Regions from separate parts of the Homo sapiens genome. Here regions 1 and 2 are each reported to be linked to region 3. The links are microRNA targets in miRTarBase. Many come from high-throughput screens and were not tested one by one. Region 3 holds a microRNA gene; each other region holds the end of a gene's coding sequence.
Evidence for each region. The annotated mature microRNA hsa-miR-873-5p reads GCAGGAACUUGUGAGUCUCCU and lies in region 3 at 1,914-1,934, shown strand. An mRNA with a match to its seed (bases 2 to 7 or 8) in the 3' UTR can be bound and repressed. Matches are read on the target gene's strand: a 7mer-m8 pairs with bases 2 to 8, a 7mer-A1 pairs with bases 2 to 7 and ends in A, and an 8mer does both.

Region 1 (4,237 bases), not on the chromosome of region 3:
TCCCCAACCATCCCCAGAGCTGAGAGAGGAAACCCTCCACCCATCCCACCCAAGAAACCTGGCCTCACCCCTTCTCCATCTGCTACCACTCCATTGACCAAAACTCATTCCCAGGCAGCCTCTTTGACCACTGCAGAAGACCTTGCCAGCAGCTGCTCTTCCAATACTGTTGTAGCAAATGGTAAGGATGTTGAGTTACTTTTGCCTACCAGCAGCTAGTCCCTAGGAGGGAGTCTCCACGTTTGACATTCCATCAGATTTCGTCCAAAAGCTCAGTCAGACTTCTGAGTCAGATTATGTTATTTATTTTGATAGTAGCTGAAACCATCTGTATAATACATTTAGTATATTTCACCATTTTGTATTTTTTTAAGTAGAAACTGAGTAGTTTGGATTTTTATGGCTCACATCTTTTTACTGAAGCCAGAAAGGCACCTCAAAGATGTCTCAAGCTCAGCAGTCACCGTCATGTTGTGATGAAGAAAGCGAATCACCAGGTGGTGATTTGCTATCTATTTGAGAACTAGAATCACTCAACACTCATTTTGAATTATGCAGAAGTGGTTCATGCAGATTTTTATTCCAGATGAACATGTTTTAAAAGTGCCTGAAATATGACTGCCATATGAATGTGATTCTGCAGCAAAAAACACAAAATAGATCATTTAATTACAGAAAATGAGATCCTCTGTGAATTCTGAATGTTAAAAACCAACACTGCTTTTAATCCTCTTTTAATGTTTTAATACAAGCTTTGTGTTCTGAAACAAGGCTGCATAAGTAGAATGGGAATCCTTCTAAAGGTGGGTGTGAACTCACCACAAGCTGAGCTTTATAGAGCCCTTGAGAAACCCTCCTGAGCACTAAGCAGTTGGGGTGCTGATTTTCTTGTACTTTTGAAAAATTAAGTCACTCCCAGTTTCCTGCATAAGTTCTTGAACAGAATGAAATCACATCTCCATTCAAAAAATGTCTCAAGCATCTACTGTTGTGTAAGGAACTTCTGATTCTGATTGCTGTTACTTGAATAGGAAATGGTTACTCATTCTGTATAAAAGTTTTGCAAGAGAATGAATTTTTTATTCTGTAATCAAAAAGCAATAACTTGAAATTCACTCTGTAATATTATAGGTCAGTCAGAATTATACAAGTTTTACCAAATTGTTACACTTATTCTCCAAGCTGCCAGAACCTGGTATCTGTATCTGTAAAACCAAATTAACTTTTGCTTAAATGGGAAGTATACATATATCTGTATAGATACATTACCCCTTTACATGTTTAACATACACACACTTAAACACATAAATACTAGTGTGATTATATCTTTGGAGTTTGCAATATAGCATAAAGGACAAGTAGAACTGCACATTAAGATTACCTACCGAAGCAACTAGATGTGGCTGGGACACAATCAAAGGAGGAATTTTGTCCACAGGAAGGTGAGGAAATTCCAAATGAAGCCTAGATCTTCAGTATCATAAAAAGGCAGAGCTGGCCAGGCACAGTGGCTCATGCCTGTAATCTTATCACTTTGGGAGGCTGAGATGGGAGGATCTCTTGAGACCAGGTGTTCAAGACCAGCCTCATCAACATAGTGAGACCCCATCTCTATTAAAAAAATAAATAGGCAGAGCTAAACTAACCCCAGTGTCACAAAACTCAACTGGTCATATAAATGAGTGAAACAGGCCTCTCACACAAGCGATGTAAAACAGCTGGGAGCAGTGGGAGCTGTGGCAAACTAAAGTGCCCAAGCCGCATTTAAAAAGGGCATCTGTTCAGCTCCATCTGCTTGCTGCGGTGCAAGAATGCTAAACCAGGATTACCAGTTCTTCACATTTTTTGAAATCCAAATTTTCATGAGAAACATTCTCATTTTTAAATATCAAGAAGTGATTTTAAAATGTTTAAATGGTGCTGGTTAAACAAACACGTCTGCAGCTGGATTTAGCTTGCAAGCTGCCAAGTTGCAACCTCTTTCATTCTAGAAACTTCTGTCATTTTCATCATAGCAAGTCTATGCGGACAAAAGCCTCCAAACTTTCCAACTGTGTAGGCCAGTACAGCTGGCAAGGTTCATAGAATATAATGGCTATCCCCCTCTGCCAAATAAGACTATCCACAACCCAGCTCAGACACAGTGGTTATATGATTTTGTGTCCATACAGGAGAGGCCTTGGTGTCTTCACATACATTCTCTGAGCCAACATCTATCCAGCAGCCCTGACCTCCTGCTATAATTTAAGTCTATTTCCTTTTAATCTAATAAGAGTTGATAGTAAAAAGGCAGGTGATGGAAATCAGTGTATAAATCACAATGGAGTATATTGGCAACTCCACAGCTTATAGTTTGATAAAGGCAAATACATGAAAAATAAAAATGCTACTAATGCCCCAAGGTGTCTATCAAAATGATGTAGGGGGTATCTTAAACTGTCCAAGGCAATCATGCATTGAACTTTATTCCTATGCAGAGCCAAAACGAATAGTGTTGATAAAATAGCTAAACTTTCTAAACTGGAGAGGAGGCTACAGTGCCAGAGAGTTATTGTCTCTTTTGCTTTAAATGGTAATCTTAAAAGTTGCATTGTGCTCTTCCTTTGTTTTGGGATAGATATATATAGAGAGAGATACTATAAGGAAGTTTATTTCTTAGGAAGTGCACTGAATAATGTATTTCTTTTACAGTGTAATATGGGGGTGGGGATATGCGAAAGAAATGTGTATTTTTGCTAGTTGCCTACCTTCTGAGATAAATAAGCACAATCTTGCAATGGATCCAATAACCCAGTTAGGTATTATAGATTAGTATTTAAGTTTGCTGTAGATTGTGTGTGTGTGTGCTAAGTAAAAGTTCCATGATTCACAATTTTAGTATTAACCCATGTTGCAAAAGCTGTTACTGGCCAACAGATTGTAATGATGTGTACCATATAACACAAGCATTAACTAGGCATTAACGTTTGTAAAGCCAAATATACCATGCAGAAGTCTTCATTTTTATAGCAGACTGCATTAAAACAAGTTAAATCTTGCTGTTTGGGGGGAAATAGTCTTGTTTGTACAAAGTGAAAAATGGCACAATTTGGGCATATTTTGTTGGGAAGAGGGGGTGGTGTAGAGGGAGCACTTGACTGTGGCTTTGACAAAACAAATGAAGTCAATGACCCATCCAGGTTAGACTCCATAAGGAACTAAGACATTGATTTTCTTTAGAGTCTTAGAGCTGGAAAAAGCCTTTACAATAATCCAGTCTGTGATTTTTTAAACCTTTTGGTGGTTCTGGACCTTTTTGAGAATCTTAGAAAAGCCATGGAGTTTATCCCTAGAAAAATGAATATGCCTATATGCAAAATTTGTTTGATGGCTTCATAGGATCCAAAGACCCTGAAGCCATCCATGGCTCATGTATTTCTGCTTAAGAAAGCATAATCTTGTTCTGCTCTCTCATTTTACAAATGATTAATGCATCCCTTTTCAACTACTCCAGCGCTGTTGCTGCTGCAATGTTAGCAAATGCAAGCCAGAGAGAAGCACTTGAAAATCCTTTGATGTCTAAAAAATGTTCAAATAGTGTGGATGTTTACATATCTGAAGTTTTCAGCATTTAAGCAAATTAATGATCATTTCAACAAATACTAGCATATCCGGTTTCCCTTAATAGCCTGTCAGCAGTGCTGCCTTGTCAATTTGTGTGTGTGTGTGTGTATGTGTGTGTGTGTGTGAATTCATAAGGAGTGCTTCTGATGCTTAGTCCTTGAAATGGAACTTCAACTGTCTTTCAAAACACTGGCTTCAAAATAGGATGTGTTTTCCTAATGAATCAGAAGTGGGCAATGAGCATTGTTCCACAGGAATAATTTTTAATTTAATTTCTATAAAACTAGTTGAGAAATGAGAGCCTGTCCACCCACCATTTGTGTATCAGTGGCCAATTCATTAGTAAAAATAAAGGAGGGGAAAGGAGACTGGAGTAGTGGTTCTCAAACTTTACTGTGCGTAAGTATAACCTGGGAAGCCTGCTAAAATAAAGATTTCTGGAGATTAGATCCTCAGACTAGCTGATGCAGCTAGTCTGTTTTGAGAAACAGTCCTTCATAGCCCTTACCTGTTCTTTCACAACAACTTGCTATTTGCCTCTGACCTAAGGAAATGTCTTAAGCTCCTGAAACTGGTTTGGCAGAATGTCAGTGATATTCAGAGTCAAGAGTGCCTACTTGAGTACCAAGCACCA
Region 2 (4,237 bases), not on the chromosome of region 3:
GGGATTACAGGCGTGAGCCACCGTGCCCAGTCTGGTAATTTCTTTAGAAAGCCTGGAATGTTGGATATTAGACAGATGTCCTTTCCACTCAGGTACACATTTAATGAGGATGAGGGGGAGCTTCCGGAGTGGTTTGTGCAAGAGGAAAAGCAGCACCGGATACGACAGTTGCCTGTTGGTAAGAAGGAGGTGGAGCATTACCGGAAACGCTGGCGGGAAATCAATGCACGTCCCATCAAGAAGGTGGCTGAGGCTAAGGCTAGAAAGAAAAGGAGGGTAAGTGATGGGGCCTCCAGAGATTGGGTGGGGTGGGGGTGGGGGGATGGGGAAGAGGTCACCTGACAGGTTCCTTTGCAGATGCTGAAGAGGCTGGAGCAGACCAGGAAGAAGGCAGAAGCCGTGGTGAACACAGTGGACATCTCAGAACGAGAGAAAGTGGCACAGCTGCGAAGGTAATGGGAGGACACCACAAAGGTACACAGGGCTAAAAGTGCAGCAGAAAGCAAGCCTCTAACCTCTTCTCTTCCCCCCTGTAGTCTCTACAAGAAGGCTGGGCTTGGCAAGGAGAAACGCCATGTCACCTACGTTGTAGCCAAAAAAGGTGTGGGCCGCAAAGTGCGCCGGCCAGCTGGAGTCAGAGGTCATTTCAAGGTGGTGGACTCAAGGATGAAGAAGGACCAAAGAGCACAGCAACGTAAGGAACAAAAGAAAAAACACAAACGGAAGTAAGCAGAGCTGCCAGGCTCCCAGGAGAGCATGGGGACTAGGAGGAAGGGTGTGGCATGGCTCAGTCTGGCCCCCTTGATTACCGGCCTAGCCCCTGCTCACATCACAGCTGTCTGAAGAACAGTGAGGTGGAGTGCCTAGAACTCCCGTGGTGGTCCTGAGCAGAGAGGAGGATGTCCTCCTGCCTGCCTGAAGGTCTCCCATGAAAACACTGCTGAACTGTGTTGACACTCATGACCCTTTTTTTAAACCGTTAAAGGGAAGTTCGGTGTTGGAGCGATACTCAATGTAGTCAGTCTACACCTGGACGTGTGGGCCACTTAAGCCCTCCCCACCCCCATCCTATTCCTGAATAAAACCAGGATAATGGAAGAGTTGTCTTTTCTGACAGTTTTAATAAGCACTTCCCTATCTGTCCCTACACTGTGTGCGGCACTATTCTTAATATGTACCAATTCATAGACAGAAATGACAAACGATCCACAGGTCCCGGTAGTAAAACATTTACTAGAGAGCAAGCAGAAAGGAATGCACATCTTAAAGAAACCTTCACAAAGTCACAAAAGTCAAAGTTTGTATATTTCTTTTCCTTTTTATAAACGATAAACAAAAATCATCAAAATCATTTCAGCAAAAGACTTTTCTATCATTGGGGCAAGTTAAAAAAAATACAATGAGATAGAAGACACTTTAAAAGCTGTTGTTGGGTTTCTTGTTTAATTTTAAATTTAGCAATACCATCTCAAACCTGGAGCAATCCTGGAACAGTTACCAGGATCACCTTTTCCCTTCAATCCTTGTGGCTTCTGGGAATCTTCAGAGCCTGGGTCTGAAAGGTGTTTCCTACATGTCTCAGGGCTGGATGCAAACCTGGCTGGGGACCTGAGCATCAACTCCCATTTAGAATCAGACATCTCCCTTCCCTGCAAATGTCTACAACTACCAAATTGCTCCCCAACAGTTAGCTCAATGGATTGAATTTGCAGAAGCCAACTCCTAAAATGGGGACTGCCTGGCCATACAACTAAGAAAAAGAAGTCAATTTATAGATGCTTATAAGGTGACACCTTAGTAAAAAATATAAGCTACATACAATATAAACCTAGAGTGAGTTTTGTGCCCTAGAAGACCCTTTATCCCAAGATAACCTCAACTTACCCACATGACAACTCACCTAGAGCCAAAAGAAGCTTCCCAGCTCTCACTGCTTCCAAGGACCAAAACAGCTTCCCAAGAAAACATCCGAAAATTCCTTCTGATGAAGGGGTAATGTCTCCAAGCTCCAGCTCTCCACTAAGGGCAGGGGGTCCTTACACTTTGGACCCCAACCCAGCCCTGAGACACCTAGTTACCAAAATCTTTCTAAAAATTAAGGACAACTGATTTCACGCTTTAGCACATCCCCTCTAACTGTCCCATCGACTTTTCTTGCGTTTAGGCGGCTCTGGGACAGCAAAGCCGTCAGCTGTCTTATCTGTCTTGCTGTCCACCTTGTCCATCTTGCTGCTGTCCACTTTGGGTTCCATCTTGGGCTCCATCTTGCTCTCACGATTAAAAGCTTCTTTCCTGCTTTCCCCATTCCGACCATCATTTGCACCCCGGTTCTCCCCATGCCGGCCTGCGCTTCCTCCATGTCTGTTCTCCCCGTGCCGATGGCCATCAGTATGACGGCTGCTGCTTTCTGGATGGCGGTATCCATCTCCATGGCGACCACCATCTCCGTGACGTGGACTATCGCTATGCCGATTGCCAGTCTCTCCGTGACTGTGACGGCTGCTGCCCCGGTTCTCAGTATATCTCTCTCTTTTCCCGTTGCTGCCCCCAGTCCCTTCTCGGCTGTTATTCCCTGAAGCTGTGTTGTTGACTCCTTGGGCTCCGGCAGACGGGTAGGTCACAGGGGCACCACTGATGTTGCCAGTATTGCCAAAGCCTGGGATGCCCTTGGCGGCACTGGTGACGGGGCTGTCAGGACTGTTATGGCCCTGTTGTGCTGAGTTAGTTGGAACAGAATTCAAGCTCCCTGCACTAGTCCACCCACTTGCCCCAGCAGCAGAACTTCCAGCCTTCTGATTACTTAAACTGGCTGCAACAAAGTGACTCTTGTACTGTGACTGAAAGAGAAAGAGACATCAGGAGTAGGTAAGATAGCAAGTTCAAGAAACTTGAATATACAACTTGGCAAATGATGAGGTTTACAGAAACTCTGTGCTATCCTGGCACTGTGAGTTTAGTGTCCTGATGGCCCCACAGTATGGTCCCTTTTGTTCTTGTGCTATAAAGGAAAACTTGTGGATCTCTGTGGAGAGATGGACCCCCAGTGTTCTGAAATGTACTTTTATAGCCTGATTGGCTAGAATAAAGCATCTATGTATTTAGCACATTTATCTGCATTCAAAACCAAAAAGTTCTGAAAACTTAAAAAAAATTTTCATACTGCAATTTAAGTTTGACAGCAAAACCTGCCTTGAACTCATTCTATCGATTCACCTTAGTGTGACTATCAGTAAATTTTGCTTCAGAAGTGAGTTGGAGGTGGGTGCCTGGGAGGTGGGCAACACTTCAGGCTGTTGGGAAGGGAGGGAACACACACCCTGCTGCAGGACAACAATCCCAGGCCCCAAGTGTGACTCAAAGTAGACCAGCACAAGGGGTTCTCTAGATCAACTTGCATTTCCAACTAAGCTACTGTTAGGTTTATATTCAAAATCCAAGCAGCGTGAAGACCCTAAATCTAGCATCAAGCCTAGGCGCCCAGCTACAACCAGGAAAACTAAGCCCCTCTGTCACTGCCCAAGAGTTACTGCTGAAAGTGCTTTTAATGAAATGCTTATTTCAGACCTGGAAAGCTGCTTTCATTGCCGTTAGTCGATCTCCCATAGCTCCTGTGGAAGGCTTGTAGGCCTCATAATTGCTCATTACATTGTTATTTCCTCGATCCTAAAAAAATAAACACATCTATGAGAATGAAAAAATAAGCAGGAAAGCTCACTGCTATAGACTAGGCCTCATTATGAAAACCCTTGAAGTGGGAGCTACAAAGGAACTGGATACTTTTAGAAAGCTGCTACTGCTTTGTGAGAAAAGACACAGTGACAATCATTTAAAAATGCTTATGCCCTCAACCCAGAAATTCTATTTCTGGAAATTAACCCTATTAAACAGAAATGCAATCAGATTATGCCCAAAGTTGATCATGTATTTACATAAACACTTCCAATTAATTAAGTAAAAATTACGTTAAAGATGAAAAGGCCCTGAATAGCATATTGTGTGACTGCTCAGGCCCTGAATCAAGACCATGAAGGGTCTGAATTTCGGCTTGAACACTTGTCACTGTAACCTTAGGTGCCTCAGCATTGTTATCTGTACTAACTTCCATTCAGTTATTTTGAAGATTAACTGAGCCAAAACATCTGATTGCTTGGAATGGTCCTGGCACATATAAAGTGCTCAATAAATATTACCTATTATTATGCATCATCATCATTATTATTATAATGTGGGAACAGAG
Region 3 (4,720 bases):
GGAAAAAAGAAAAACAGGATGGTGCCTCTGCCTAGAGGATGCTTATTCCTTGGATAAAGTGGTGATCTACTCTTATTTGATTAGGCTATTTCAAGGATTCTTGACTGTCAATTGGAATTTTAATTGGAGACTTTAACAGCAAATAACCTTTATAGCATATGATTTACATAAATAGATATTCAACAATTTTAATATAGCCACATAATGAGGAGGTTATTCAGTGGGGTCTACTTCCTTCCCCAGCCCTAGTAGAGATTAAAGAGAGAATGTCCCATTGTCCTCCAAACTCCTCTGCCATACAAGTAACTGACTCTGGGTCCATTTGGAGAAACTTCTACACTCAACCACATAAACCTCATAATTCAGAGTAGTTGAGGCTGTATTCATTGTGGCATTCTTCTTCCACCTCATTAAATACCAGGCAGGCCCCTTTGATCAGGTCTCCATGGCAGTGCTGCCCCTGGTACACAAGTGTGTACCCATTTAGGAAAAGACAGTAACTGCTTACCTGCACAACCTAATTATATGGAGATATGGTCTCAGTCCTTTAACAGTGAGACAGAAACAGAAATCCAAGCTCCAGGGACAGGAAAGTCTACTGAGATCAAAACCCCTTCTTTTGCCCCACAAAAACAAAACAAAACAAAACAAAACAAAACAAAAAACCAAGAAAACCTGTAGTTAATTTCTGCCAATTCCTAGATAGGACTTAAAAATTAAACCTCTTCAATAAAGTATTTACATACTGCCTCTTACAAGGGCATATGGTAGTAAAATAAATGGATCTATATGCTATTCTGTACCAAGCATGAGTGCATGAAATTTTACCAGCTGGGAACCTTTATGGACAGAGACCCTGTGTGTGAACAGGCATAATTGCCTATACACATGCTTTTTATGGGGAGAAGAGATAGTGGAATATTTATTTTTTTCATTTGAACAAACTAACATAGGCAAAATTTTCTAGAGCTTAAAATTTCAGAAAAACTGCAAAGACTAACACCTGGTCTTGGAAAAATATTTACCTTGATGATTACCACCTTCCTGGTCAAGAACTGAGCCTGTCTTCTTAGAACGTTAGAGCTAGAGTCTGAGATCTAATGGAGACATTAAAGCTGATAAAAATAAGTTTCAATGTTAGGAGCCATTAAATGGGCAAATTAACCATTTGTTTTTATATGAGAAAAATAATTTATGTGTTGGCTGGTAGAAAAGATTCCAGTTATTAATAATACATTTAAAATTTACAGTAATTGCTGAAACAAAGGTTTTTTAATAGAAAAAGACAACTTCAATAACATTATATTTATGTATAAACACTTCCATTCTTTGTTTCCAGTTATTATATCATCATCACACATTTATATCCAGAATGAAAAGTAAAATAGCCCAAATAATAATTTTTAAAATTAAAAAAAAAACTGAAGCAAAAAACATGTTAAATGGTGTGACATGGAAATACTGCTATGTCTTAGCTGCAGTAGGGCTAGAATTCTGATCTCGTAGTTCCCTTTGCTAGATTCTTCCCATTGCACCAGGAAGTACAAATTTAAATACCACTGCCTCTCATTTGGCATTGGAGACTGATACTTTGACTCAGGCATTATTGAAAGTGAACTGGACTAATGTTTGATAGAATTGCCCTAAAGGCAAGAAATTATTTATCACTCTATCTTTAAAACAAGAACAGTGACCTGCTTAAGGGATGCTCAATCAATATTTATTGAATACATAAATGAAGGTGACCAGTGTCTGGGATGCCCACAAAACTGTTTGAAAAGAATCACAAGCACCAGGCAAGCTGCTGAAGATACTCCAGGGGAACAGATTACTGTATTCACTTGAAATGGAGGAAATATGAACAGCTGCTTATCTGCAAATGGTTCCTGCTTAGAATAAGTTTGTGTGCATTTGCAGGAACTTGTGAGTCTCCTATTGAAAATGAACAGGAGACTGATGAGTTCCCGGGAACACCCACAAATCTTCCTACTCATTTCTACTGCTTTGCAATGGACAACATTTTATGGCTGGTACCTTCCACTGTTGTCAGTTCCTCCAAGTTCTGAGTATAAGTTTAAGTTCTAAACAAGGAAGTAATGTTGAAAATGCAAAATAATTCAGTTAGGCAAGGGTTAACTTGTCCACTCAACATGGATGTCAGTAGGTTTACTTGAGGTGTTGAATCCCACCAAGGGAAGCATCTCTAATAGTCCTGATCTTATCTTTGTAAACTCAGCAGACATTCTACAAGACATAAATTATTCAATGAAATGAATGGTGCCAGTGCTTATGTGAAAGATAATTTATAGACCTTGCAGGAAAGGAAAAAATTAAAAATCATATGTATTCCCTTAAACTTTTTTTCTTGGTTGTATCTAATCAGGAGTTTAAGTATATAAATGTTGAGATTGTTATCTAATTTTTTTCTGAGAAAATATTTTCTCTGTTCATGTTCATGTGTAACATCAACTTATGTAATTAGTCTTTTTATATTTCAGGATTGTTCAATGGACCACATTTAGCATCAGCATTGATAGCATGAATCTGTTGTTAAATCTCATAAAGCAGCCTTTCATGAAACCACATAAGGTTGATCCTTTATAATCTGTTTATGGTCTTCTTTTAACAAGAGTGACAAATTCAATTACTGAAGGAGGAATATAGTAAATGTATGAAGTTGATGATGTGTATCCTACATTAGTGAGTAGCAGAGACTCTACTCATAGTCATACCTAAATACTTTCAAATTCACTTAGAAAAATGAATCATATCTAAAGGTTATATTTGTGTTAAATATTCTATAATAATTAGTGATAAAGTTCCTCTCAGTGTTTTTCTACATTCCTCAAAATGTTATCTTCAAAACATTCAATGAAGTTCTTACATGTAAGCTGGTAATACAAATCTTACCTTCATTTTGACCTGTCTTTTTTCTAAAACAATGTGCAGCCTTTAAATTTTTTGCAAATTAAATCCAGTTGGAGCTTATTTCTGTAGGATTTCTTCAATTGATTTTAATTATCCTGGCATAAATATGGAAAAATATTAAATCGATTGAAAGCATGTTTTCAGACAGAAGTATCGTCAATCACTGGTCAGTAGACCTTTCTGTTTCTCTTTCACAATCTAGGATTACAGTTCTCAGCCTTTTTGTTTGTCTTTTTGCCCCACATCTAAACCCATGATCCTTGTGTCTGTGTGATCACACTGCTGGATGTGGCTGAGATAAAACAATGTGTTGGCTGTATTTTATTTCCAGTAGCTTGTTGTGATGTCTCCTCTGAAAAGCTTATCTTACTAGAATGCAATAAGGTGGCATATATGTCACCCTGAACATGCCCTTCTTTTTTTTTAATAAAAGCAAATCATCCACTAACATTACTCTTTAATATTAGTAACAAATTACTGGCTTCTGCAACATGTCATCAGGTACAATCAGGAGAGAGTTGAGAATCACTTTTCTGGAATGTATAGTTCATCCTAATGCCAACAGTTTTTTTAAGACCAGGGGCAAGTTAGAACAATAGGCCTCATTCAAGGAGCTCATCTGACCCTTGACTTTCAATAACTAGAGAAAAAAAAATCCTTTCAATTTTTTTCCCACATGTAGATCAATAACATGGAACTTATATGTCAGCATCAACTCAGCAGACATCTCTATTGAGCATCTATTTTCAACTGTTCTGCCAGAGTCTGGGGTTAGAAACTGACAAGCGTGTTTGTATAGCTCTTTGTTCATCATTATTATAATGGACACAGCATTATATGTACAAGGTCCTGCCTCACTCGTTGGAAATCATACATTAGGCTTTCTTGTTCATACCCTGCTCTGCATTACCTTAAGCAATGAAATGTGGTCAACCCACTGGGGAACATTTCTTAAATATCTAAAATATGTTAGATCCACTTCAGTTTAAAAGCCTGCATCTCTAATATTAACTTGACGAAGCTCTAACTACTATTTCTATATTATTTCTCTCTCATTTAATGTTCTGTTTGAATGTATTATATTCAGTTTATCTCAAGTTGCCTAAGTGGAAACTCCTAAATGTGTCTCACAATTGCATGTTATCTCATAAAAGCAAAGTTTTAGTTTAGTATTGAATTCATTCTAGGATTCTGTAGATGACACTAGCTAGCCTCATTAGAATAAATTATGGGAAATTACATAGAGAGAAAAACAGACTTTCACCTGTAAAAGCGGGAAATCAAAAACAAACAAGCAGTACATATATTACTTAAAATTGGAAGAAAAGAAATAAGCAACAAAAGAAATTATGTGAGTAACTGTGGTATATTTTGTGCAAAAATCCAGTGGCCCATACTCTTTCCTGGAAGGTAAGACTCTAATTAAAGTTTCATTTGTCATTACCCTCAAATCCAAGGAGTAGCCCTGTCATTTTAATTAAATACCATTAACTGAAAGATTACTGCCTAGTATGACTTAATTGGCTCTTCAAATTACTCTTTCTAGAAGGAATATACCATTTTAGACCTTCCATAAAAGCTTGTTTTAAAAATTTTTTTCATAGTACCATTTTAGCTTAGATCCAATTTTTTGAGCCTCCATTTTCTATCCTAATTATGTTAGCCAATAATGTCTTTCAAATATATCAATGTTTTATCTTCTCTGCAATTAATTTTCTTCCCCTTCTCACTGTATATTTCATTTCTGAGTTTGAGTAAAGGCATGTCAGTACACTGAAAGCAAACATAACTC

Region 1: miRTarBase lists CTTNBP2NL as a target of hsa-miR-873-5p. The part of its 3' UTR that is shown has no 7-base or 8-base seed match.
Region 2: the mRNA of FTSJ3 is a reported target of hsa-miR-873-5p. Seed matches in the 3' UTR shown: 7mer-A1 at 1,072-1,078.

Annotation. Positions count from the first base shown.
Region 1 is chr1:112,457,194-112,461,430 of GRCh38, forward strand. CTTNBP2NL (CTTNBP2 N-terminal like) reads left to right here. Exons shown (of 6, transcript NM_018704.3): 6 at 1-3,971. The coding sequence ends at 219. Among named protein-coding and RNA genes, the nearest start is that of MIR4256, 2.5 kb to the right of the region's middle.
Region 2 is chr17:63,816,294-63,820,530 of GRCh38, reverse strand. It overlaps FTSJ3 (FtsJ RNA 2'-O-methyltransferase 3), which reads left to right. Exons shown (of 21, transcript NM_017647.4): 19 at 93-276; 20 at 358-452; 21 at 537-1,098. The coding sequence ends at 729. DDX42 (DEAD-box helicase 42) reads right to left here. Exons shown (of 18, transcript NM_203499.3): 17 at 3,565-3,663; 18 at 1,214-2,837. The coding sequence ends at 2,133. Among named protein-coding and RNA genes, the nearest start is that of PSMC5, 9.0 kb to the left of the region's middle. RefSeq lists an enhancer at 1-706.
Region 3 is chr9:28,886,139-28,890,858 of GRCh38, reverse strand. MIR873 (microRNA 873) reads left to right here and starts at 1,904; the gene lies at 1,904-1,980. All of the region lies in intron 2 of LINGO2 (leucine rich repeat and Ig domain containing 2), which reads left to right.